Linked DNA regions of Homo sapiens: all the other regions are linked to region 4. The links come from fine-mapping of genetic effects on plasma protein levels. A gene starts in region 4. Each other region holds a variant in brackets. All regions are shown on one strand. Distances are from middle to middle. Region 1 holds the start of HES4 (hes family bHLH transcription factor 4). Region 2 holds the start of RNF223 (ring finger protein 223). Region 3 overlaps AGRN (agrin). Region 4 holds the start of AGRN (agrin). Region 5 overlaps C1orf159 (chromosome 1 open reading frame 159).

The links. PIP is the posterior inclusion probability: the model's chance that the variant is causal. The UK Biobank Pharma Proteomics Project read protein levels with antibody pairs (Olink). The fine-mapping took linkage between variants from a reference panel, not from the people measured, so its PIPs are less certain.
Region 1: its variant is fine-mapped to the plasma level of the AGRN protein (UK Biobank, PIP 0.92).
Region 2: its variant is fine-mapped to the plasma level of the AGRN protein (UK Biobank, PIP above 0.99).
Region 3: its variant is fine-mapped to the plasma level of the AGRN protein (UK Biobank, PIP 0.98).
Region 5: its variant is fine-mapped to the plasma level of the AGRN protein (UK Biobank, PIP above 0.99).

The regions. Positions count from the first base shown.
Region 1 is chr1:999,124-1,004,220 of GRCh38, forward strand. It overlaps HES4 (hes family bHLH transcription factor 4), which reads right to left and starts at 974. Exons shown (of 4, transcript NM_021170.4): 1 at 743-974; 2 at 569-664; 3 at 403-490; 4 at 1-309. The coding sequence starts at 850. RefSeq lists silencers at 1-249, 800-939, 1,010-1,389, 1,490-1,539, 2,617-2,966 and an enhancer at 3,017-3,156. The variant C/G (reference allele first, on the strand shown) is at 2,747.
Region 2 is chr1:1,073,556-1,078,652 of GRCh38, forward strand. It overlaps RNF223 (ring finger protein 223), which reads right to left and starts at 751. Exons shown (of 2, transcript NM_001205252.2): 1 at 461-751. RefSeq lists an enhancer at 444-943. The variant A/G (reference allele first, on the strand shown) is at 2,160.
Region 3 is chr1:1,030,639-1,035,735 of GRCh38, forward strand. AGRN (agrin) reads left to right here. Exons shown (of 36, transcript NM_198576.4): 3 at 4,639-4,686. Among named protein-coding and RNA genes, the nearest start is that of AGRN, 13 kb to the left of the region's middle. RefSeq lists enhancers at 1-86, 1,827-2,696 and silencers at 2,210-2,389, 2,450-2,589, 2,570-2,690, 2,610-2,919, 3,335-3,484. The variant C/A (reference allele first, on the strand shown) is at 2,208.
Region 4 is chr1:1,016,948-1,022,025 of GRCh38, forward strand. It overlaps AGRN (agrin), which reads left to right and starts at 3,173. Exons shown (of 36, transcript NM_198576.4): 1 at 3,173-3,426. The coding sequence starts at 3,226. RefSeq lists a silencer at 2,487-2,936 and an enhancer at 4,445-5,078.
Region 5 is chr1:1,100,885-1,105,981 of GRCh38, forward strand. All of the region lies in intron 1 of C1orf159 (chromosome 1 open reading frame 159), which reads right to left. Among named protein-coding and RNA genes, the nearest start is that of C1orf159, 13 kb to the right of the region's middle. The variant G/A (reference allele first, on the strand shown) is at 2,532.

The DNA of each region.
Region 1 (5,097 bases), 18 kb before region 4:
GCGCCCGGGTCAGACCCGGCAGCAGCGGCGGCGCGAGCAGAGGGAAGGGGCCGCCGAGCGATGGCAGCAGCGGGCGGCCCGCGTAGACCTCGGGCGCTGGGGCCTCTGCGGGGGCAGCCGGGGACAGCGAGGCCGGGCGGCGGGAGGGTCCCAGCTGGCGCAGGCAGGCTGCCAGGTGGCCCAGCAGGCGGGAGCGCACGTCGGCCGGGACGCCCTCGCAGCCGGCCAGGAAGCGGTTCACCTCCGCCAGACACTCGTGGAAGCCGGCGCGGTACTTGCCCAGAACGGCGGGGTCGGCGCTGAGCGCGGCTGCGGGAGCGACACAGGAGGAGAGGTCGGTGCCGGGTCCCGGGGGTCCCGCGCCCTCCCCCCGCCTCCAAGCCGCCGCCGCCCGCGCCTCACCCGTCACCTGCACGCGACGCAGGCTCCGCAGGTGTCTCACGGTCATCTCCAGGATGTCCGCCTTCTCCAGCTTCGAGTGGCGGGAGCTCTGGGGGCGGGGATAGGCGGGAGGTCCAGGTCAGCTGCGACCCAGACTCCGGGTCTCGGGCCTTCGCCCCCGACTTACCTCTTTTCTGAGGGCGTCCAGGATGAGGGTTTTGAGCTGAGCGAGGCTCTCGTTAATACGCGCTCGGCGCCGCTTCTCCATGACCGGCTTGGAGGACTGCGGGTCGGGCACCGGCTGAGTCCCGCGTCCCTCCCGCCCCCCGGTCGCCCCCCTCACGCCCGGCCGGGACCCCACCTTGCGGTGCTCGGCCGCGCTCCGGGGCTTGTCTGGGGTCCGGCTGGCGCTGGCCGGCGCTCCTGCCATCGGCGAGGCGCTCGGTTTCCCCGGCGTGTCTGCGGCCATGGTGCGCCCCGCGCCTCCCCGTGCCGGGTGGAGCGCGCCGCCACGGACCACGGGCGGGCTGGCGGGCGAGCGGCGAGCGCGCGGCGATCCGAGCCCCTAGGGCGGATCCCGGCTCCAGGCCCGCGCGCGCCTCAGGCCGTTTCCCTATTTAAGGCCTCGCCGCCGCGGGGTGTGTGAACCCGGCTCCGCATTCTTTCCCACACTCGCCCCAGCCAATCGACGGCCGCGCTCCTCCCCCGCTCGCTGTCAGTCACGCCTCGGCTCCGGGCGCGGCCTCCGCGGGCGACAATGGCATGCGGGGCCCCCGCCCGCGCCCCCCTCCGACACCGCTGGGGACAGGGCCGGGTGATCCCGCGCTCCCCGATGCAGCCGGGGCCGAGCAACGCGCCGGGAGGGGCCGCTGGGGGCGAACGGGGCCCGGGACCCCCGGGGCTGGGCGGAGTCTCGGGGCTCACTCTCCCGCCCAGGGGGCCGGGAGCCGGGGCTGGACGGAGCTGGGGCTGTGGCCGCGCGGGAAGTCGGGAAGGAAATTCCCCCAGTGGCGCAGGGTCCGGCGGCGCCGAGGGGTGGGCGAGCCTCGGTCTCGAGCCTCTTGGCTTCCTCCGCCCGTCCCCACTCCGGTCCCGGTTTGGGCCCTGCTCGGTCTCCGAGTTTGATCCGACACCGGCTCGGCCTCCGGGGGTCCCACCCTCAGGTGTGCGGCCTGGAGCACGGAGGGCTGCAGAAAGCCTTGGGAGCGACAGAGCCGGGGGAAGGTCGGCGGCCGGGTCGGCAGGCGGGAGGGCGGAGTCAGCGGACGGCGAAGGGGCGCACGGGTGGCCCCGCAGAGCAGGGCCGGTGATGGCGCGGGCCGGGCCGGACCACGAGGAGCAGAACGTGCGCGTGACGCGAGCGGGCTGGTGACGTCACCAGGCACCCGGGGCGATGACGCAAGCCTGCTGGGATGACGTCATGTGGCCCGTGTCGCCACGTGCTTCCAGGTGACCCGCTGGCGAACTCAGCAGCAGCAAAGTGGGGCTCACAGAAAAATGAGGGGCCACTGTTAATATAACTGCAAAGGGGCAGGTTGCGTAAAACAGGGCTGTGGTTATTTTCGTGTTTGCTGTTTTTATTTCGAATGCCGCTGCGGGGCACGTTGGTCCTTTCCGCACTCGGGGTCCCCGGCGGCCTCACGCGTCCGTGCAGCGGAGGCTTCCTGAGCCCCCTGGAGAGCCTGGCCTGGGCCCGGGTGTGGAGACCCTCCCGGGCTTTCAATCCGGGCAGGAGGCAGATGGCAGACTCAGCAGTCACGTAAGAGAACCGAATTAGGTGGGTGGCCTGGGTGGACAAAAGCCTTCTTGACGCCGGGTGGTCCCAAAGGCTTCTGCGGGGTGGGGGGTCCTCAGGGGGGAAGCCTCAAGGGAGGGCGTGGCATTCCCAGGGTGCGAAGGGGGCGCAGGGACGAGGGAGGTGGGGAGGGGGAGCTGGGCCAGCGAGAACCGGGAGCTTCTGGTCGGGGAGGGAGTCGGGGAACTTTTTGGGGAGCTTTTCTGAGCCAGGGAGTCGGCTGATTGGCAGGTTCGCCCCTGCCCGGGCACCTGGACCCAGGGTTTCTGTGCGGAAGCTTCCCCTCCCCTCGGACCCCACGTCTAATCTGGCCCCAAGCAAAGTCCTGCGGCCCACGCGGGAAGGCGCCCTCTTCGCGGCGCTGACCCCGGCCCTCCGCGGTGCCCCTGAGGCGCCCCCCACACCCCGCCGCTTGCACAGGGGCGCGGGGGGCTGCGAGGCCGGAGCGGGGGTGGCGCCCTCTCCGCCGAGAGGCTGTCCGCGCCCCTCGCCGACTGGGGAAAGCCGCGGGGGCTGGGCGGGCGTCTCGGAGGTGGCCCCGCGAGCACTTAAGCCCCGGCTCTCCTGCCC[C/G]GACCTCTCTGCGCGCGCCTCGGCGCTGGAGAGGCTCGGACCGGCCCCGTAGCCCAGGAGGTGGTGTGGATGGTGTCCCCGTCCCGCGTCCCTCCCCGGCCTGAGCGCTGGGCCCGGGCGGGAAAGCCCGCGAGCGCCCCCAGTGGCCGCAGTCGCCGCCGCCTCCTGCTGGGGGTCATCCCAGGGGAGCTGCCGGCCTGAATCTCCCCAGCCCCTGGGCCCCGGCTTGGGAAGAAATTTGGGGGGGCTCTGGGCCTCCCCCAGTCCCTAGACAGGCAGGGAGTTCGGGATGGAAGGAGGAGCCTGAGGATCGTTTTTATTTATTTTTTTTTTGTAGAGATGGGGATCTCCCTATGTTGCCCAGGCTGGTCTCGAACTCCTGGCCCGAGACGATGCTCCTGCCTCGGCCTCCCAACGTGCTGGGACTACAGGCGTGAGTCTCCTCCCTGCCAAGCGTGGCTGGGACTGATCATTCCCTCACTGGTTTTTAGATGGGCTCACTTCCCCTCCTTGTACCTGTTTTCTCATCTGTAAAAGGGAGCTAACTTTTTTTTTTTTTTTTTTTTGAGGCAGCGTCTCGCTCTGTTGCCCAGGCTGGAGTGCAGTGGCACCACAACCTTTGCCTCCCGGGTTCAAGCGATTCTCCTGCCTCAGCCTCCCAAGTAGCTGGGATTACAAGCATGTACCACCACGCCCGGCTAGTGTTTTGTATTTTTAGTAGAGATGGGGTTTCACTGTGTTGGCCAGGCTGGTCTTAATAGGAGATTCTACTTTTTTTTTTTCTTTTTTGAGACGGAGTTTCACTCTTGTCGCTCAGGCTGGAGTGCAGTGGCACGATCTGGGCTCACCACAACCTCTGCTTCCTGTATTCAAGCGATTCTCCTGCCTCAGCCTCTGGAGTAGCTGGGATTACAGGCGTGTGCCGCCACACCTGGCTAATTTTTGTATTTTTAGTAGAGATGTAGTTTCTCCATGTTGGTCAGGCTGGTCTCAAACTCCCCACCTCAGGTGATCCACGCACCTCAGCCTCCCAAAGTGCTGGGATTACAGGTGTGAGCCACCGTGCCTGGCCAGGAGATTCTACTTTTAAAGCCACTGACGGCGTCCAACTCATAGTGAGCACCCACGCCCATCTGCCAGGGTTCCTGCCCCTGGGCAGCAGCTGGGGTCCTTGCTGAGCAGAGGCAGGAGGGGCCACCAGCACTTGCCTCTGCTCTTCTGGAGAGGAAGAGACCCCCCTGCTCCCTGCCCCCTGCCAGGGAGCCCACTCCAGGATCTCCGGGGACTGTGTTCCTCCCACCTTCTTTGCCACAGGACAGCTCCCATCTGTGTGTCTGTCTCTCTGGGTCTGTGCCCTTGGCCTCTGATGGTCCCCTCCCTGCCTCTCGAATCTGGCCTCGATTTGTGGTAGGGGCCTCAGGGTTCCTGAGGGCCTTGGGGTTCCCTTGCTCTGAGTGTGGGGGTGGATCCTGGGCTGCAGCCCAGGATGGTGCCGACACCTGGGTTGGGGGCAGGTTGCGTTTTTCAGAGACGGCCGTGATAGTATCTCCCATCCCCATATCTTGAAATGCCTTCTACATGAGACTCTGTGACAGTCTCAGCTGGGAAGAATGGGGTGTTTGGCAGGACATGACTTCTGAGGCTGACTTGGAAGACGCCATGCGTACCTCGCTGTCCTGGGACAGTCGCTCTTGGAACCCAGCTGCCGTGCTGGGAGGGAGCACGCCCTGGCCTCAAGGAGAGGCCCCGTGGAGGAATCAGCATTGGATTCCAGACTCCTGAGCAGCTTCCGGCGCAGGTCCCAGCGCGCCCCGTTCCAAGGCTGCCCGCACACAGTAGGGTGGTTGCTGAGCGTGCTGTTTTGGGGTGGTTTGTGGTGCGGCACTCAAGACTGGAATAGTGGAGGTGGGCTGGGGCCCTGACCCAGGGAGAGTGACCCTTCCCTCCTCACCCCTGCTCCCTCCTCGCTGATCCCTTCCTCTCTTCCACAGAGGCAGAGGCTCAGCGACTTCCCCACCCCTCCCCCCCATCTAACGGGTGCTTCTTGGGAGCCACTGAAATCCAGCCGACCTCCTGGCCCTGAGTGGGTCAAGCTCCAAATGGCGGGTGGCCCCGGGGCATCTGCACAGCCCCCTGTTAGCTAAGGGGGGTGACTGATGAGGACATTCACACGCCAGTGGGGAGACTGTGGGGAAAACCGGGGTGTCTTCTAGGCTGGACCTGGGGGGGCCTCAGCCTTGTTGGGGGGTCTCCTCACATTGGGCCACTGTGGCCGCACTCCATGACCACAGCCAGTGTCCCCAAAAGGCCTGTGAGGTGCTGGCTGTGACCTCCCCTCCCAACCTCTGACC
Region 2 (5,097 bases), 57 kb after region 4:
CCCTGGGCATGGCTCAGGTGGGCATCTCAGCTGACCTGGGACCCTGCTCCACCTCCCGCCCCTCCCCTGCACCCAGGATCCGCTGCAGGGAGCCACAGGGGTCCCACCTGGAGGGAAGTGGGCAAGGGTGACAGTGAGACTCAAGGGCCTGGCCGTGCGTCCCCGTGGGGCCCAGGAGGCTGCCCCAGAAGTGACTCCTGGCACTGCCCCGCCCCACCCCTGACTTGCCAGTGAGTCCCAGACAGGCTGGCGGGATGACACAGGTCACTGTGACCACCTGAGTCACACGCCGTCACTGTGAGGCCGTGAGTGCCCCAGGCACCGGGACCTGGGGACTGTGCTCTGCGGCCTGTGTACCCCACAGAACCGGTTCCTTGGCACGAGGCCCCACCCCTCCACGATGGTGCCCCACCCTGAGCCTGTGCAGGTAAGGGGTGAACACGGGCTGAGCTGGCCTTACCTGGTGGCCGGGGGTCAGCGGGCCTGGGCGTGGTCCTCCTCGCCGGCCACGGTTGGGCTCCAAGGCCCTGGGCTGCCCTGCCGTGGCAGTGTCTGCTTCCTCTTCTCCGGGCCCGGCCCGGCCTGTGCTTCACCCAGCAGGTATCCCTCCCCGGGGCCGGCCACCAGCAGCTGTCCCGGTGGCACTGGTCTGGCAGGTGTGGCTTCTGCTCTGTCCAAGACAGGCGGGGACACAAGGAATGCGTGCGCCGTCACCCGCACAGAGCTCTGGTCTGAGGCAGGTGTGAGTTGCTGGGTGTGGGCTCCCAAGCAGGTCTATTTATACCCTATGGGCCAAGGGTGTGGCCGCAAGCCTCAGGGATTGGCTGGCTTCATCCTCTCCTTGGCGGGCCAGGCAGCTGGAGGGCAGGGAGGGAGGGGTGAGGGTCGGAGCCGGGTAGGGGTCAGCACAGCCGCTGCAGCCTGGGCAGGTCTGGGCTGGGGTGTGTGCTTGGACAAAGCCCTCTCTCCCTATAGCCCCAGGAGGCTGGAGCACCTGCTGGAAGCTGCTCACCGCAGTTCCAGGTCCCTGTGGCCCCTGAGCTCCTGGGTGGGCCTCCTAGCAGGGGCCCTCCCCGAGCCCCCCACAACCTATGCCCAGCCTGCCCCTGCCCTTTGCTCACTGCTGCCTGCCCTCACAGCCCATTCCTGCCACTTCCCTGCCCACACCCACCCATGTGCTCACCTGCCTCATCCATACACATACGTGGCTGCTCTCACACATGGGCCATGTGTTCACACGCTCTATGCCCCCGTGTCCACAGGCTCTCACACACGTGCCGTGTCCGGAAGCTCACATATGCCATGTCCACACTCACACACGCCGTGTCCACACTCACACGCCGTGTCCACACTCTCACACACATGCCATGTCCACATGCTCTCACACACGTGCCCTGTGTCCACACACACACACATGCCATGTCCACATGCCCTAGCAGACTACAGGACTGGTCTGTGCAAAGACCAGGGCTGGAGCTGGTTGAGAGTCTGGGGGCTGAGGCTGGCAGGGCTGGGATGGAGGATGTGTGGGTCTCAGAGGAGCAGCCAGTGGCATGGGCTGCCCCGTCCCCCGCACACCCCGCTGTGGGCCCGAGGGCCTGGTGTAGAGCTGCACCCCCAGGCTGTCCAGCTGCCAGCTCCCCACCTCACTGAGGCGTCTCTCTCCCAGCCCAGTGGACCTCATGCAAGGGGAGGTCCGACCCGGCTGCCACAGCCCCATCCCCGCCATGAGGCCTGGGCCGGACCTGAGCTGGGACTCCACACACCAGCCTGGGGGGGTGCCACACTGGGTGGGGCTGGGAGTGAGGGACCCACCCTAGTGGGAGAGCTGGCCGGGCCACCCCACAGACTGCCCTCAGGCAACTCCCATGCAGGTGCCCGCCGACCCCTCAGTAGGGACCCAGAGGCTCCCCCAGGGCTGCCGCGGGCATCCTGGAGCCCAAGGGATGCTGGGAAGTGGGAACCAGGACTGCAGAGGCCAGGGGGCAACACCCCGAGGAGGAGCACAGGGACTTGGGCTCAGGAAGGGCCGGACCCCTGCCAGTTCCATGAGGACTCTCAGTCGGGGGTTGGGGGGACCCCTGCCAGTTCCATGAGGACTCTCAGTCAGGGGTTGGGGGGACCCCTGCCAGTTCCATGAGGACTCTCAGTCGGGGGTT[A/G]GGGGGGTTCAGAGAGCGGATTTGGGTGCTCAGACAGGGAGGGGTGGATGCTCAGAGAGCGGGGCGCGGGCTGGGGCTGGGCTTTCAGACAGGGAGGGCTGGGGACTCAAGAGCTGGGGAGGGGTGGGAGCTCTGTGAGGGGCTCCGTGCGGGGTGGCTGAGGCTATGGGAACTCTGTGGGGGGAGGCTGAGGCTATGGGGACTCCGTGGGGGGAGGCTGAGGCTATGGGGACTCCGTGCCGGGAGGCTGAGGCTATGGGGACTCCGTGGCGGGAGGCTGAGGCTATGGGGACTCCGTGGGGGGAGGCTGAGGTTATGGGGACTCCGTGCTGGGAGGCTGAGGCTATGGGGACTCCATCGGGGGAGGCTGAGTCTATGGGGACTCCGTGGGGGGAGGCTGAGGCTATGGGGACTCCGTGCCGGGAGGCTGAGGCTATGGGGACTCCGTGGGGCAGGCTGAGGCTACGGTGACTCCGTGCAGGGCTGTGAGGCTACGGGGACTCCGTGGGGGGTGGCTGAGGCTACGGGGACTCCGTGGGGGGAGGCTGAGGCTACGGGGACTCCGTGGGGGGAGGCTGAGGCTACGGGGACTCCGTGGGGGGAGGCTGAGGCTACGGGGACTCCGTGCTGGGAGGCTGAGGCTATGGGGACTCCGTCGGGGGAGGCTGAGTCTATGGGGACTCCGTGGGGGGAGGCTGAGGCTATGGGGACTCCGTGCCGGGAGGCTGAGGCTATGGGGACTCCGTGGGGCAGGCTGAGGCTATGGTGACTCCGTGCAGGGCTGTGAGGCTACGGGGACTCCGTGGGGGGTGGCTGAGGCTACGGGGACTCCGTGGGGGGAGGCTGAGGCTACGGGGACTCCGTGGGGGGAGGCTGAGGCTACGGGGACTCCGTGGGGGGAGGCTGAGGCTACGGGGACTCCGTGGGGGGAGGCTGAGGCTACGGGGACTCCGTGGGGGGAGGCTGAGGCTACGGGGACTCCGTGGGGGGAGGCTGAGGCTACGGGGACTCCGTGGGGGGAGGCTGAGGCTACGGGGACTCCGTGGGGGGAGGCTGAGGCTACGGGGACTCCGTGGGGGGAGGCTGAGGCTACGGGGACTCCGTGGGGGGAGGCTGAGGCTACGGGGACTCCGTGGGGGGAGGCTGAGGCTACGGGGACTCCGTGGGGGGAGGCTGAGGCTACGGGGACTCCGTGGGGGGAGGCTGAGGCTACGGGGACTCCGTGGGGGGAGGCTGAGGCTACGGGGACTCCGTGGGGGGAGGCTGAGGCTACGGGGACTCCGTGGGGGGAGGCTGAGGCTACGGGGACTCCGTGGGGGGAGGCTGAGGCTACGGGGACTCCGTGGGGGGAGGCTGAGGCTACGGGGACTCCGTGCCGGGAGGCTGAGGCTACGGGGACTCCGTGCGGGGAGGCTGAGTCTACGGGGACTCCGTGAGGGGTGGCTGAGTCTATGGGGACTCCGTGCGGGGAGGCTGAGTCTATGGGGACTCCGTGCGGGGTGGCTGAGGCTATGGGGACTCCGTGCCGGGAGGCTGAGGCTATGGGGACTCCGTGCCGGGAGGCTGAGTCTATGGGGACTCCGTGCCGGGAGGCTGAGTCTATGGGGACTCTGTGCCGGGAGGCTGAGGCTACGGGGACTCCGTGCCGGGAGGCTGAGGCTACGGGGACTCCGTGGGGGGAGGCTGAGGCTACGGGGACTCCGTGGGGGGAGGCTGAGGCTACGGGGACTCCGTGGGGGGAGGCTGAGGCTATGGGGACTCCGTGGGGGGAGGCTGAGGCTATGGGGACTCCGTGGGGGGAGGCTGAGTCTATGGGGACTCCGTGCCGAGAGGCTGAGTCTATGGGGACTCCGTGCCGGGAGGCTGAGTCTATGGGGACTCCGTGCCGGGAGGCTGAGTCTATGGGGACTCCGTTGGGGGAGGCTGAGGCTATGGGGACTCCGTTGGGGGAGGCTGAGGCTATGGGGACTCCGTTGGGGGAGGCTGAGGCTATGGGGACTCCGTGCGGGGAGGCTGAGGCTACGGGGACTCCGTGGGGGGAGGCTGAGGCTACGGGGACTCCGTGGGGGGAGGCTGAGGCTACGGGGACTCCGTGGGGGGAGGCTGAGGCTACGGGGACTCCGTGCGGGGAGGCTGAGGCTACGGGGACTCCGTTGGGGGAGGCTGAGGCTACGGGGACTCCGTGGGGGGAGGCTGAGGCTACGGGGACTCCGTGGGGGGAGGCTGAGGCTACGGGGACTCCGTGGGGGGAGGCTGAGGCTACGGGGACTCCGTGGGGGGAGGCTGAGGCTATGGGGACTCCGTGCCGGGAGGCTGAGTCTATGGGGACTCCGTTGGGGGAGGCTGAGGCTATGGGGACTCCGTTGGGGGAGGCTGAGGCTATGGGGACTCCGTGCGGGGAGGCTGAGGCTATGGGGACTCCGTGGGGGGACGCTGAGGCTATGGGGACTCCGTGGGGGGAGGCTGAGGCTATGGGGACTCCGTGGGGGGAGGCTGAGGCTATGGGGACTCCGTGGGGGGAGGCTGAGGCTATGGGGACTCCGTGGGGGGAGGCTGCGTCTATGGGGACTCCGTGAGGGGTGGCTGAGGCTATGGGGACTCCGTGGGGGGAGGCTGAGGCTATGGGGACTCCGTGGGGGGAGGCTGAGGCTATGGGGACTCCGTGGGGGGAGGCTGAGGCTATGGGGACTCCGTGGGGGGAGGCTGAGGCTATGGGGACTCCGTGGGGGGAGGCTGAGGCTATGGGGACTCCGTGGGGGGAGGCTGAGGCTATGGGGACTCCGTGGGGGGAGGCTGAGGCTATGGGGACTCCGTGGGGGGAGGCTGAGGCTATGGGGACTCCGTGGGGGGAGGCTGAGGCTATGGGGACTCCGTGGGGGGAGGCTGAGGCTATGGGGACTCCGTGGGGGGAGGCTGAGGCTATGGGGACTCCGTGGGG
Region 3 (5,097 bases), 14 kb after region 4:
AGATCAGCATGTGTGTGTGTGCAGTGCATGGTGCTGTGAGATCAGTGTGTGTGTGTGCAGTGCATGGTGCTGTGTGAGATCAGCATGTGTGTGTGTGTGTGTGCAGCGCATGGTGCTGTGAGATCAGCATGTGTGTGTGTGTGTGTGTGCAGTGCATGGTGCTGTGAGATCAGCATGTGTGTGTGCAGTGCATGGTGCTGTGAGATCAGCGTGTGTGTGTGTGCAGTGCATGGTGCTGTGTGAGATCAGCATGTGTGTGTGTGCAGTGCATGGTGCTGTGAGATCAGCGTGTGTGTGTGTGCAGTGCATGGTGCTGTGTGAGATCAGCATGTGTGTGTGTGTGCAGTGCATGGTGCTGAGTGTGAGATCAGCATGTGTGTGTGCAGTGCATGGTGCTGTGAGTGTATCAGCATGTGTGTGTGTGCAGTGCATGGTGCTGTGAGTGTGATTGTGTGTGTGTGTGTGCGGTGCATGGTGCTGTGTGAGATGTGTGTGTGTGCAGTGCATGGTGCTGTGTGAGATTGTGTGTGTGCAGTGCATGGTGCTGAGTGTGAGATCAGCATGTGTGTGTGCAGTGCATGGTGCTGTGAGTGTATCAGCATGTCTGTGTGTGTGCAGTGCATGGTGCTGAGTGTGAGATCAGCATGTGTGTGTATGTGTGTGCGGTGCATGGTGCTGTGAGTGTGAGATCAGGGACCAGGGGGCTAGTACTCTTTCCTGCACATGAGCCTGCGTGGGCTGGTCAGGGCTGAATGATTTTGTCTGAAGATCCCAAAATAGCTCATGTCGCCTGAGCTCCCTCCCTGGCTGGGCCTGGGGCCTCAATGGCCCTTTGTCTTTCTGAAGGCATCTGGGCCTCTGTGGGGGGCTCAGACACTGACTGGGGCTGGGTGGGGCCAGGCTGCCTGCCTGGTTCCCCTTCCCCTGGCCCAGCCCAAGGGGCCCTAAGCCTCATTCCAGTGTCGGCCTGGGGCAGCCAGGCCCCCCACGTGACTTTCAGCTTGTTGGGCCCCCTTTGCTGGCAGATCCCAGGGTCTCTCTGTGTGGGGGCAAACTTCCCAGGCAGTGTTTGAGGCCCCCTCTGCCAGCCCGTACCTGGGGCTCCCCCACCCCTCCCACATTGTGGTACCTGTCCTCCTCCTGCAGAGCCCGCCCAGAGATCCCATGGCTGAAGGTGGTGGCAGCAGGCGGGCTGGCGCGTGACCTGGTAGCACGGCCTGGGTTTGACCCTGGCACTGCCCCTGGGACTCAGAGCTGGGAGGTGAGAAATGGGGAATGCATGTGAACCACCTGCCTCTGCACACAGCAAGTCCTGTTCTGGGTTTTCTCATCCCTGGGTCACACCCTGCGCTGGGGAGATAAAAAGTCAGACCCTGCCCGGGGCACCCACAGTCAGCACCGCCGGAACACTGTCAGCCTGGTGTGGACAGTGCCAAGGTCCAGCAGGGTGGGGTGGTTGGGGTAGGAGCTCCCCTGAGGAGAGAGTGAGGCCAGCAGGGGTGGGTCTCCAAGTGCTTCCTTTGACAGCTGCTCTGGATGGGACGTGGCTTGGGGTGGGTGAGAACCCTTGGCTGAGTTTGGATTTTCCTGCAGGGTTTCATTGGAACACCAGGTTCCAGGGCCGTAGAGATGTGGAGGCCTCCTGTCTGGGTGATGGGGCATGGTGCTGGTCCCTGGCTGTGGGGTGGAAAGGAGTCCCAAGAGAGGGAGCTGGCAAGACAGGACCTTCCCAGCTAAGGTGGGGTTGGTGGGATTTGGCTGGGGCCCTTGGAGGAGCCTGACCAGGAGGTGAGACAGGGCACCTGGAAGGAAGGAGGCGTTGGGGAGAGTCCAGATGGAGGCCATGGGGTTGAGGGGCCCAGACACCCGGCTGGGGGACTCCAGGAAGGCAGCAGGTGTGGGCAGTGGGTCCTCTGGGGTGGACTGAGGTGAGGCCTGGGTGTGACCACGCGGTGGCACTGGTGGCTGCCGGCAGCTGTCGTCTGCAGAGTGGGTGAGACCGAGTGTGGCAGATGGCTTGGTCCGCGGTGCTGGAGGGGACTGGCGGAGCAGAAGCGCCCTGGCGCCGGGTCCTTGCTTTCCTGGAGCTGGGGCTTGGGGAATGGGGTCGGTCATTGCAGGGACAGAGGAGAGGGCAGGGTAATGGGTGCGCAGGGGTCCCTTCCAAAGGCTGCGGGTGGCCAGGGGTGTGCGGGGGCGCTGAGGTG[C/A]GGTCGCCGAGAGATTCTGGCCTCCAGGGTGGTCGGGCCTGGCATGGACTCTAGGGGATGGTGCACACACCGGACCGGACGGGCCCCTCCCTTACCCCCGGATCCCCCGGCTGGGCAGCGGCCAGGGAGAGGGGCGACCTACGGGGGCGGGTGTGGGGACGCCGGACTACGCGTCAGGAGTCCCAGATGGGCCCAGACCCCCATTCCCCGCCCCGGGCCGCAGTGACGTCAGGGCCCGGACGTTCCCGGAACGGCCTCTTGGGGGCGTTCCAGCCCCACGGACCCGCAGGGAGTCCCCGCCGCAATTTGCATGGGGCTCATTTGCATGACCCCGCCCCGCGCGGGAGTCGGGGGCGCCGGCGACTGGAGGAGCCACTGTCAATCCCCAGGGGAAAGTGGGCGAGGCGATTTCTGGGCCGCTCACCTCACTCCACCCTCCAGCTCGCGCCGCACCTGGGGCCCTCCCCCACCTACGCCCCGCCAGGGCGGGGCCGCGGGCGCAGACACTCGCGGGCACACGCACGACGACGCGCACACGCGGTCGCACGCGGCCCCCCGAGCCCCCTGCGGCGACTCCGATTCACCCCCGCGGGTGCGGGGCGCGGACCCGCCCGGCCCAGCTCCTGCTCCCCAGGCGCTTCCTCCTCCCGCGACCTGCCCCGGCCGCACCCGCCTCCGCTCCAGCACGCGACGCTGCCCGGCGCGACCCCTGCTCCCCCGGCCCAGCCCCACCGCTGCCCTCGACTCAATCCCAGTTGAACGCCCGCAGCCTCAGTCCCACCCCCGGCCCAGCCCCAGCGCCCCCAGTCCCACCCCCGGCCCCAGCTTCAGCCTCAGCGCCCCCAGGCCCAGCCCCAGTCCCACCCCCAGTCCCAACACCTTCAGGCCCACCCTCGGCCCCAGCCTCAGCCACCCCAGCCCCAGTCCCGGCCCAGCCCCAGCCCCAGCGCTCCCGGCCCCGGGCCCAGCCCCAGCCCCAGCCCCAGCCGAGCACCCCCGGCCCCGCCTGCCCGGCGTTCCCTTTTGTGCGGCGCTCTCCCGTCCGCATCCGCCCGATCCTCTGGAACTCCCCGCGGACGCCGGGGTCCCTGGAGGCGGCTTCCTTTGTCTCTGCTCCCGCCCTCCCTCCGCGGCGTCTTCGCCCCTCACTCACCTCCCCAGCCCCGCGGGGACGAGGGGAGCTGGAGGGAGCCCGGGACCCGGCGCGGCCTCCGCAGGCGGCGCTTTCTTCTCGCTCCCGACGCGGCCGCCCCTCCTGCCTGCCCGCTCCTATCGCCGCTTCCGCCTCTGCCGGGGACGGGGACAGCAGACCCTCGGCGCCCGGCCCCCGCGCACCTGCCGCGCGCACCGCCTCTCCGGCCTGCGCGGCTCCGGGGGCTCCGGGAAGACCGAGCGCTGGCGGCCAGCCCGGGGAGGCTGTGGGCAGCAGGGGTGGCTGCGGGCTCCCAGTCCCTCCTCCGCCTACCTCGGAGCCCACATTTGGGATTTCTACTCCGGGAGAATTCTGCCCTCCTCCCACGATGAGCCTGGAGGACTGGAGCCGGGACCTGGCACCCCCAGGGCTGTGACTGGGTGAACTCTGAGGGCACAGCTGCTGTCCGCCGCCCCAGGGGTCCCAGGATGGGGCGAGCAGCCCTGAAGAGGCCCAAGGGCACCCCGTGAGGAGCCCCCACGCTCTGAGAGTGGGGCGCAGAGCCGGAGCCCCGGGCCATGCCTCCGCTGCCGCTGGCGCGGGACACCCGGCAGCCGCCTGGCGCCTCCCTGCTGGTGCGAGGCTTCATGGTGCCCTGCAACGCCTGCCTGATCCTGCTGGCCACCGCCACGCTCGGCTTCGCGGTGCTGCTGTTCCTCAACAACTGTAGGTGGCCGCGGGCGGGGCGTCGCACTGGCCAAGCCCCAACCCCGAGGCCCCTGCACATAGAGGCTGGAGGCCGCGGCGGGTCCGCGGGGCTCCCGGCAGCTTCCCGGGGATGGGATGGGTCACTCTGCGGACCCCTCGGTCCCTGGAGGCCGTCCTTGGGCTCTCAGTGGGCCTGGCCCTCACCCAAAGCTGCAGAAACACTTTCTGCGGGAGCTGGGGAGGGAGGGGCAGCCGGCTACACTGAGAGCCGGCAGTTGGGGGTAGGGCAGGACCTGCGGTGGACTCTTCCAGGGAAGGGGGTCCTGCCTGCACCCCTGTGGCTGGGGCCCCATCTGACAGGGGTCAGGCCATGACTATTTGGCTGGAGGGGCAGAGAAAAGCAGGGGCCTCTGTCTCAGACCTCAGCCAGCCCATGGGGTCAGGGCTGGACCCTTCAGCAGCCTGGATCCCTGGGGCTAGCGGTGGGGGGGGGGGGGTGGGCAGGGGTGCCCCTTTCCAGGCTGGGCAAAGGGATGGGACAGGGAGGAGCCTGCTCAGAGGAGCCTAACTTGGGGATTTGTTTTCTTCCAGATAAACCCGGGACCCACTTCACTCCAGTGCCTCCGACGCCTCCTGATGGTGAGTAGGGCTGAGTTCGGGGGACCTGGATGGGCTGTGGCACTCTTGGGAGTCAGGGGCCATTTGGAGGTGTGCACCCAGACGTGTGGAGTGTGTCTGGAGTGAGGAGGAGGCTGGACAAGGGCACCTGCGTCTGTCCTGGGAGTCCGCAGCGGTGGGCCGCAGTAGGAACTCGGGGTCTAGAGGCCGCCGCCTGACGGCACTGGACCTCGGCTCTCACTTCTCTGGGCCTCAGCCCCCTCAGCCTCAAAACTGGGAACAAGTCCTGGGACCCACAGGTTGTGAGGTGATGTCAGACCTGTAGGGCAGGGCCAGAGTCCGGTCAGGGGGCTCCGCTCTATTGTCCTCCCTTCTCCCTGTTCAGCAAGGGGTGGGGCTGGACAGAGGCTGGAAGTGGACAGGAGCTTGCAG
Region 4 (5,078 bases):
TCACAAGCGTGAGTTACCGTGCCCTGTCTGTATTTATAGTAGAGACAGAGTTTCACCATGTTGGCCAGGCTGGTCTCGAACTACTGACCTCAAGTGATCCGCCCACCTCGGCCTCCCAAAGTGCTGGGATTACAGGCCTGAGCCACCACGCCCGGCCCGTCGACTAATTTTTTTTTTTTGAAACAGTCTCGCTCTGTCACCCAGGCTGGAGTGCAGTTGCACTGTGTCCAGAATTGGTGGGTTCTTGGTCTCACTGACTTCAAGAATGAAGCCACGGACCCTCGCGGTGAGTGTTACAGCTCTTAAGTCGGCGCGTCTTCAGTTCGTTCCTTCTGATGTTCGGATATGTTCGGAGTTTCTTCCTTCTGGTGGGTTCGTGGTCTCGCTGGCTCAGGAGTGAAGCTGCAGACCTTGGCGGCGAGTGTTACAGCTCTTAAGGCAGCGCGTCTGGATTTTTTGTTCCTCCCGGTGGGCTCGTGGTCTCGCTGGTTTCAGGAGTGAAGCTGCAGACCTTGGCGGTGAGTGTTACAGCTCATAAAAGCAGTGTGAACCCAAAAAGTGAGCAGTAGCAAGATTTATTGCAAAGAGCGAAAGAACAAAGCCTCCACTGTGTGGAAGGGGACCTGACCGGGTTGCCACTGCTAGCACCGGCAGCCTGCTTTTATTCTCTTATCTGGCCCCACCCACATCCTGCTGATGGGTAGAGCCTAGTGGTCTGTTTTGACAGGGCGCTGATTGGTGCATTTACAATCCCTGAGCTAGACACAAAGGTTCTCCACGTCCCCACCAGATTAGTTAGATACAGAGTATCCACACAAAGGTTCTCCAAGGCCCCACCAGAGTAGCTAGATACAGAGTCCACTGGCACATTCACAAACCCTGAGCTAGACACAGGGCGCTGATTGGTGTATTTACAAACCTTGAGCTAGATACAGAGTGCCGATTGGTGTATTTACAATCCCTGAGCTAGACATAAATGTTCTCCAAGGTCTCACCAGAGTAGCTAGATACAGAGTGTCCACTGGCGCATTCACAAACCCTGAGCTAGACACAGGGTGCTGATTGGTGTATTTACAAACCTTGAGCTAGATACAGAGTGCCGATTGGTGTATTTACAATCCCTGAGCTAGACATAAAGGTTCTCCAAGGCCCCACCAGAGTAGCTAGATACAGAGTGTCTGTCTATTGGTGCATTCACAGACTCTGAGCTAGACACAGGGTGCTGATTGGTGTATTTACAATCCCTGAGCTAGACATAAAGGTTCTCCACGTCTCCACCACTCAGGAGCCCAGCTGGCTTCACCCAGTGGATCCCGCACTGGGGCTGCAAGTGGAGCTGCCTGCCAGTCCTGCGCTGTGCACCCGCACTCCTCAGCCCTTGGGTGGTCATGGGACTAGGCACGGTGGAGCAGGGGGCAGCGCTCATCGGGGAGGCTTGGGCCGCACAGGAGCCCACGGAGGGGGTGGGAGGCTCAGGCATGGTGGGCTGCAGGTCCCCAGCTCTGCCCCGCCGGAAGGCAGCTAAGGCCTGGCGAGTAATCGAGTGCAGCGCCAGTGGGCTGGCACTGCTGGGGGACCCACTACACCCTCCGCAGCCGCTGGCCCGGGTGCTAAGCCCCTCATTGCTCCGGGCCGGCAGGGCCGGCCGGCTGCTCCAAGTGCGGGGCCCACCAAGCCCACGCCCACTCGGAACTCCAGCTGGCCCGCAAGAGCCGCGCGCAGCCCCGGTTCCCGCTCATGCCTCTCCCTCCACACCTCCCTGCAAGCTGAGGGAGCCGGCTCCCGCCTTGGCCAGCCCAGAAAGGGGCTCCCACAGTGCAGCGGTGGGCTGAAGGGCTCCTCAAGTGCCACCAAAGTGGGAGCCCAGGCAGAGGAGGCGTGAAGACCGAGAGAGGGCTGTGAGGACTGCCAGCACGCTGTCACCTCTCAGCACCATCTCAGCTCACTGCAACCTCCGCCTCCTGGGTTCAAGCGATTCTCCTGCCTCAGCCTCCCAAGTAGCTAGGACTACAGGCGCCTGCCACCACACCGGCCAATTTTTGTATTTTTAGTAGAGACGGGGTTTCACCATGTTGGCCAGGCTGGTCTCGAACTCCTGACCTCCCGTGATCCACCTGCCTCAGCCTCCCAAAGTGCTGGGATTACAGGCGTGAGCCACTGCGCCCGGCCCATCCAGCTAATTTTTAATTTTTTTGAGAGATGGGGTCTTGCTATTTTGCCCAGGCTAGTCTCGAACACCCGGTGTCAAGAGATCTTGCTGCCTCCGCCTCCCAGAGTGCTGGGATGACAGGCGTGAGTCACCACGCCCAGCCTAGACACAGTTCTGAAGGGACAAAGGGGGCCTCCGCTCCCTCCTTTCAATCTTCAGCTAGGCCAGGCTCCCACTTGGGTCCTCCAGCCCTCAGTTTCCCCCTGCACCCAGCCAGGCCAAGCTGCAGAGGCGCCCGGCCCAGAGCTGGGAAGGGGCGTGGCGGGACCCGCGCTTGCAGCCGCGGGACGGAAGGGGGCGCGAACCTCCCCGCGGCGGGGCCTGGGGGGGCGGGGCCGGGAGGGGCGGGGCCGCGCCCCGTGCTGGCCAATCAGCGCCCGCCCCGGCACCGGGACCCGCCTCCGCGCCGCAGCTCCCGGGGGGTCCGGCCCGGCCGAGCCTCGGTGTCCGGCCCCGCGGGGGAGGGGCGCGGCCTGCGGAGCGGGATCGGGGCCGGGTCTGGGGCCCCTCCCGGCGGCCTTCGAGCCCTGCCGCCCGGCTCCGCGCCGCCCGGAGCCCCTCGGCAGTCCCGTCACGTCTCCTCCAGATTAGGCATTAACTCGGGTGCAGCCGCACTTCCGGGGGGCCGCGGCGGGGGAGGGGCGCCTGCGGGATCCAGACCCGCCCCCCACTCTCCTCTCCCCGCCCCCTCCCGGGCCGCCCCTTTCCCGCCCCACGGCCGCGCCGGGCGCTGCGTCCCGGGGCTTTGTTCGCGGCGGCGCGGGTCGCCGGCCTCCGGGCGGGCCGGGGGAGGGAGGAGGGAGGGGGCGGGAGGGGGAAGGAAGGAGGAGGGGGAGGAGGAGGGCGCGGGGAGGGGGTAGGGGGGCGGGGAGGAGAGAGGGGGAGGGGCGCCGCCCTGGCCCCGCCCCCCCCCGCCCGCCCGCCCGCGCTCCGCCGCCTCCGGAGCTGCGTCCCGTCCTGTCCAGTCCCGTCCCCGGCGCGGCCCGCGCGCTCCTCCGCCGCCTCTCGCCTGCGCCATGGCCGGCCGGTCCCACCCGGGCCCGCTGCGGCCGCTGCTGCCGCTCCTTGTGGTGGCCGCGTGCGTCCTGCCCGGAGCCGGCGGGACATGCCCGGAGCGCGCGCTGGAGCGGCGCGAGGAGGAGGCGAACGTGGTGCTCACCGGGACGGTGGAGGAGATCCTCAACGTGGACCCGGTGCAGCACACGTACTCCTGCAAGGTGCGCCCACCCGGACCCCGGCCTCCCCTCGCGACGCCTGCCGCCCCGCCGGGACCCCCGCCCCAGGCCGTGGGAACCAGCCCCGGTCGCTCCGCAGCCCCCGCTCCGGCTCCCTTGGCGACCGCCAAGCCCCGGGAGGGGGGGTCGCCGGGTCCCGGGAAACTCGCGGGCGCCGGGGAAAGTTGCTGCGCCGCCGCCGTCCTCCGCCCGCCGCCGCCTCCCTCCTCGCGGAGACAAGTGCACCTCGCCCACGGACTGCGGCTGCCGCGCGCCCTCCCTACCGGCCGAGAAGGAGAGGGGCCTGGGGAGGGGGGGCCTTTGCCCGGGCGGGGAGCGGGGGCTGGGCCTGGGATCCGCTTGTTCCCCTCCCCAGAGGCCTTTCCCGGGGCGAGAGGGGTTGGTCAGGAGAGAAAAAGGGGCGCACAGCCTGAGCTCCCAACCCCGGGAGCCAGGTGGGGGGTGCCGCAGTGGTGCGGGGGGGGGGCGTGCAGGAGCAGAGAGGTGGGCGGGGCCGTCACCGGGCCTCGTGTGCTTGGGGGCAGGGCCGGTGCCCCATCGCGCTCCTGCGGGAACCGGGGCTCCCCACCCCGGGGAGGGGAAGTTTCCCTGGTTTCTCCTTCAGGTGCTTCTGGGAGCCCCCGGGGTAGGTACGCTGGGACCCCCACCATCTTCTCCTAGTAGGGGCTCGGGGGACCCAGAGCCGGCGCCCGTGTACCCCCAAAACCATCTCCTGGGACCAGAAATCCACTCATTTCCCTCCACGGAGGTGGAGAAGGTGGCAGCTTCTTTCAGACTGGCCGGTGCGGGCTACAGCTGGGCTCCCCCGCCGGCCCAGTCTCCTCCACAGCGGCCAGGGCACTTTGCCAGGCCCCTGCAGGATTTTCCCGACTTCCTCCCCGCTGCTCCTGGGTGTGGCTGGGGTGGGGGAAGGCGATGAAAGCCACCAGGCCCTCCCCCTGCCTGGGTCATCTGCCTCCTGGAGCCTACTGTTGGGGGGCGTGGAAGAGGCTCTGCCTGCGCAACTGGAGGGGGTCCCTGCGGATGCCGCAGTCCTGAGGCTCCCAGCAGGGGCTGCGCAGTGGACAGGCCAACCATTGTCTCTCCCCCCATCCGGCAGCCCCAGCCCCCCAGATCTGAGGAAGGGGCTGCTTCTCCCGGCTTTGTTCTCAGGGGAGTGCGTGAGTGCGTGGGTCCCTGTCCCCGTGAGGGCCGCCAGGTCGGCTGTAGCCTTTACCACAGGCCACCGTCAGAGCAGCTGCCCTCAGGGCCCCAGGAGCTGAGAAGGTGGAGGGTGGGGCACCCTGCACTGCCCAAACTTGATTTCGTGGTTCACAGGCTGCCCTGAGTGCACAGACTGTAGAAGCCCGAGGAAGGGGCGTCTCAGCCCAGCCACAGGGCCAAGCTGGCCCCTTACCCCAACGCCCCATCCCCCTCCTCCACTGCCCAAGCTTGCTGGGAGGTGGGCCCTGAGCACTGGGCAGGTGGGGAGAAGTGTGGAAGGCAGGCACCCCAAGCCAGGTGGGCCCCCTTCCCAAATTCGGCCTTAGCTGATAGGGACGTTATTGGAGCTGGGGTGGCTGAAGTTGGTTAGACCTGGGGGAGGGGATGTGTTCACAGGTGACGCATCTCTGAGCGTTCCCGCATGGGCTGTG
Region 5 (5,097 bases), 84 kb after region 4:
GATCCCCTCTACTACTCTTCACGTTGTGGCTGTCATATCTGCATACATTATAAACCCAAGAGATGTTTTAATTTTTCCCCAGATATTTACTAATTTTGATGTTCATCATTCATTCTTAAAGATCTGAGTTTCACTGTAGTATATACTATCTTCAGCATTTCCGGTAGCACAATTTGATGGTGACAAATTTTATCAGTTTTCCTTTTTCTGAAAATATTTTCATGTAATGTTTATTCTTAGAGAATACAGAATTCTATGCTTTTTTTTTCTTTCAGCAGTTCCACTTTCTTCTGGTCTCCATAATTACTCACAAACTTGGTCGGGCGTGGCAGCTCACGCCTGTAATCCCAGCACTTTGGGAGGCCAAGTGGGTGGGTCACTTGAGGCCAGGAGTTTGATGCCACCCTGGCCAACATAGCAAAACCCCATCTCTACTAAAAATACAAAAATTAGCTCAGCATGGTAGCACACGCTTGTAGTCCCAGCTACTTGGGAGGCTGAGACACAAGAATCGCTTGAACCCAGGAGGCAGAGGTTGCAGTAAGCTGAGACTGTACCACTGCACTCCAGCCTTGGTAACAGAGCAAGACTGTATAAAAAAAAATTTTTTTTTAAATCTCACAGACTCAGTCTATCAGCTCATGGTCTATCAGCTCAGGGTCTGTCAGCTCATGGTCTATCGGCTCAGGGTCCATTGGCTCACATCTATCAATCAGCTCAGTCTATTGGCTCAGGGTCCGTCGGCTCATGGTCTATCAATCAGCTCACAGTCTGTCGGCTCACGGTCTATTGGCTCATGGTTTATCAGCTCAGTCTTCACAGTGCTGTGCTGTGTGTGATCTGTTGTTTTTCTCTGGCTGCTTTCAAGATTTTTAAAGTTAATCTTTAGTTTTTAATAGTTTTAGGGCTGGGTGTGGTGGCTTACACCTGTAATCCCAGCACTTTAGGAAGCTGAGGCAGGCAGATCCCCTGAGGTCAGGAGTTCGAGACTAGCCTGGCCAACATGGAGAAACCCCGTATCTACTAAAAATACAAAAATTAATCGGGCATGGTGGCACGGGCATATAGTCCCAGCTACATGGGAGGCTGAGGCAGGAGAATCGCTTGAACTGGGAGGTAGAGGTTGCAGTGAGCCGAGATCGCACCACTGCACTCCAGCCTGGGCGACAACAGCAAAACTCTGTCTCAAAAAAAAAAAAAAAAAAAAAAAAACAAACTTTTGAAGTGATGGGTCCAGGTGTGGTTTTATTCTCATTTATCCTGTTTGGGATTCTTAAAACTAAACATTTATGTCTTTCACCAAATTTGAAAGTTTCTGGTTACTGTTTCTTCAAGTACTTCTGTCCACTGTGCCTCTCCTCTCCTGGACCTCTGTAATTACCCATGTGTTAGACATGTTGATATCACCTAAGGTCCCTGAGGCTTAGATATCACCTACAGGTCCCAGAGGCTCTGTTCATGGTTTTGTTTTATTTTCCTCCAATCACTTCCACCCTTTTTTTTTTTTCCAGCTTGGATGATTTCTATTCCTCTGTCTTTGAGGACTCTGCCTATTTTCTCTGTTATTTCCCTTCTGTTATGTTCATTCAGTGAATTTTAAAATTTCAGATCTTGGCCAAGCACAGTGGCTCACGCCTGTAATCCCAGCACCTTGAGAGGCTGAGGTAGGTGGATCACCTGAGGTCAGTTCAAGACAAGCCTGGCCAACATAGCGAAACCCTGTCTCTACTAAAAAAAAAAAAAAAAAAAAAAAAAAAAAAAAAAATTGCCAGGCGTAGTGGTGGGCACCTGTAGTCCCAGCTACTCAGGAGGCTGAGGCAGGAGAATCACTTGAACCTGGGAGGCAGAAGTTGCAGTGAGACGAGATCGTGCCACTGAACTCCAGCCTGGGTGACAGAGTAGAACTGTCTCAAAAATAAATAAATAAAATAAAATTTCAGATCTTGTTTTTTTTTGAGACAAGAGTTTCACTCTTGTCCCCCAGCCCCAGGCTGGAGTGCAGTGGCATGATCTGGGCTCACTGCAGCCTCTGCCTCCTGGGCTCAAGTGATTCTTTGCCTCAGCCTCCCGAGTAGCTGGGATTACAGGCGACCACCACCAAGCCCTGCTAAATTTTTGTTGTTGCTGTTTGTATTTTTAGTAGAGACGGGGTTTCACCATGTTGGTCAGGCTTGTCTTGAACTCCTGACCGCAGGTGATCCACCTACCTCAGCCTCCCAAAGTGCTGGGATTACAGGCGTGAGCCACCACGCCCAGCCAGATCTTGTGTTTGTTTGACCTAAAATTCCCATTTGGCTCATTTAAACATGTTTCCTCGCTGAGATTTCCGGCACTTTGTTCATTATGCGTGCATTTCCCTTTTCTTCACTGAGCACAGACACTAAACCTGCTCCAAAGTGCTTTTTTGACTATTCCAACAGCTAGGTCATAACACAATTGATATCTGTTGTCTTTCCCTTCGAGAATGGCTCACATTTTCCTGGCTCTTCATATGTTGAGTGATTTTGAACTGTACCCTGTACATTGCAAAC[G/A]TTACATTGTGAAGACACTGGAATTCTGTGATATTCCTCTGAAGAGAATCAATGTTTCTACTTAGCAGGCAATTAATTTCATTAGATTCAAACTGCAAACGCTGTCACACCTGCGGTGAGCGGTGGCTCAGGTCACTGCATGGCACAGGGTGCACGCAGGGGTCAGGGGTCTGCCAGAAACGAGCGGCATCTATACACAGGACTCCTCCCCTCTGGCTCTTTCTGGGGCTTCTACTCTCTTTTTCGAGGAGCTATGGGTGCCTAGCTCCTTCCCCTGCCTGCTCCTGGAACAAGGAAGATAGCGTACTTTCTTTTTTGCTTGTTTGTTTTCTGGAGACACATTCTCCCTCTGTCGCCCAGGCAGAAATGCAGTGGCAGCGATCCTCTCACCCCGGCCTCCTGAATAGTTGGGACCTCAGGTGCACACCATTACACCCAGGTAACGTCCTTTTCTTTTGTAGAGACTGTGTTGTCCAGGCTGGTCTCAAATGCCTGGCCTCAAGCAATTCTCCGTCTCAGCCTCCCAAAATCCTGGGATTACAGGAGTGAGCTGCCCTGCCAGATAGTAGAATTTTTACTTTTTTTTTTCTGAGACAGAGTCTCGCTCTGTCACCCAGGCTGGAGTGCAGTGGCGCAATCTCAGCTCGCTGAAGCCTCTGCCTCCCAGGCTCACGCGATTCTCCTGCCTCGGCCTCACGAGTAGCTGGGATTACAGGCACCTGCCACCACACCTGGCTAATTTTTTGTATTTTTAGTAGAGACGGGGTTTCAGCATGTTGGCCAGGCTGGTCTCAAACTCCTGACCTCGTGATCCACCTGCCTCTGCCTCCCAAAGTGCTGGGATCACAGGCGTGAGCCACTGCACCCGGCCCAGACAGTGGACTTTCTATCAGTGCGTTAGTCACCCCACACTATCATGTGGGGACTGTGGCTGCCCTCAGGGCAAAGATGCAAAAACAGGAAACTGTGCTGGTTGCTTCCTCCAAGTCAAAACTTCCCTCCAAAATCTGCCACTCTCCAGAGCCCTCAGGGAGCTGTTTTTCATACTCTGTCCATGGTTATAGTTGTGCTATGGCAGGGTCACTCTGTTAGAAGTTTACTCTTTCCCACTGAAGTAGAACCCCATCATACGGCTTTCTGTGTCCAGAAACCAAGGCGATTTTAGTTTCTAGACGGTGGGCGCTGGTGTTGCTTCCCAGGTGCTCAACTCTGGGCAGTAACAAGCCTGCATGGTCTGGACATGGTGGCTCACACCTAGAATATCAGCTACCTGGGAGGCTGATGCAAGAGGACTGCTTGAGCCCAGGAGTTCGAAGCCGAAGTGCAGACGCATTCAAGCTGGTCGAGCCGGGAACGCACCTGCACTCCAGCCTGGGCAACAGAGCGAGGCCCTGTCTCAAAGGAAAAAAAAAAAGCTTTGGCAGCAGGGAACTTGGAGAACATGGGCTGAAAGGATAAGTCTTTTTGTGCTACAGATCCTGGGTCTCCAAGGGATGTAAACCTGTTCACTGTCCAACAACAGCAGCAATCAACACTTCCAGAGCACTTGCCACATGCCAGACACCACGCGAAGGGATTTATACACACAAACTGATTTCACTAATTTCAACAATGCCCCTTATCGCCCCACTTTAAATATGAGGAAAAGACTTGCATAAGACCACACTGTGAGTAGGCGGCAGGGTTAGGCCCAGGCCAGGCCCTCTGGCTCCAGAATAAACTGGAGTCTGATGGTTTTCAACTGCAACACTCAACAAATATGTTCAGTATGTCTGGCCAACTACCGTAAAAGTTTATAGAAATTTTCAATTTAAGAAGTAAAGGCCAGGAGCAGTGGCTCACACCTGTAATCCCAGCACTTTGGAAGGCTGAGGCTGGAGGATCGCTTGAGGGCAGGAGTTTTAAGACCGGCCTGGGCAATACACCGAAACCCCTTACAGAAATCAGCCAGGCGTGATGGCACATGCCTGTGATCCCAGCTACTTGGGAGGGAGGTGGGAGGATCGCTTGAGTCCAGGAGGTTGAGGCTGCAGTGAGCCGAGATCGCGCCACCACACCCTAGCCTGGATGACAGAGTAAGACCCCATCTCAAAAAAAAATAAATAAAAAGTAAAGGCATTGGATTTAAAAAACAATATACCCTTAAATATTAGACTATTAACTAAAGTAAAAATAATAAGTGTGGACCACGCATGGTGGCTCACACCTGTAATCCTAGCACTTTGGGAGGCCGAGGTGGGTGGATCACGAGGTCAGGAGAGTGAGACCATCCTGGCTAACATGGTGAAACCCTGTCTCTACTTAAAACACAAAAAAATTAGCTGGGCGGGCGCCTGTAGTCCCAGCTACTCGGGAGGCTGAGGCAGGAGAATAGCATGAACCTGGGAAGGTGGAGCTTGCGGTGAGCCGAGATAGCACCACTGCACTCCAGCCTGGGCTACAGAGCGAGACTCTGTCTCAAAAACAAACAAATAAATAAATAAATAGATAGATAAATAAATAAAATAGTAATAAGTGTGTTGTAGAATTTTCTAGCATACCTAGAAGTGAAATGCGTGCCGACAAG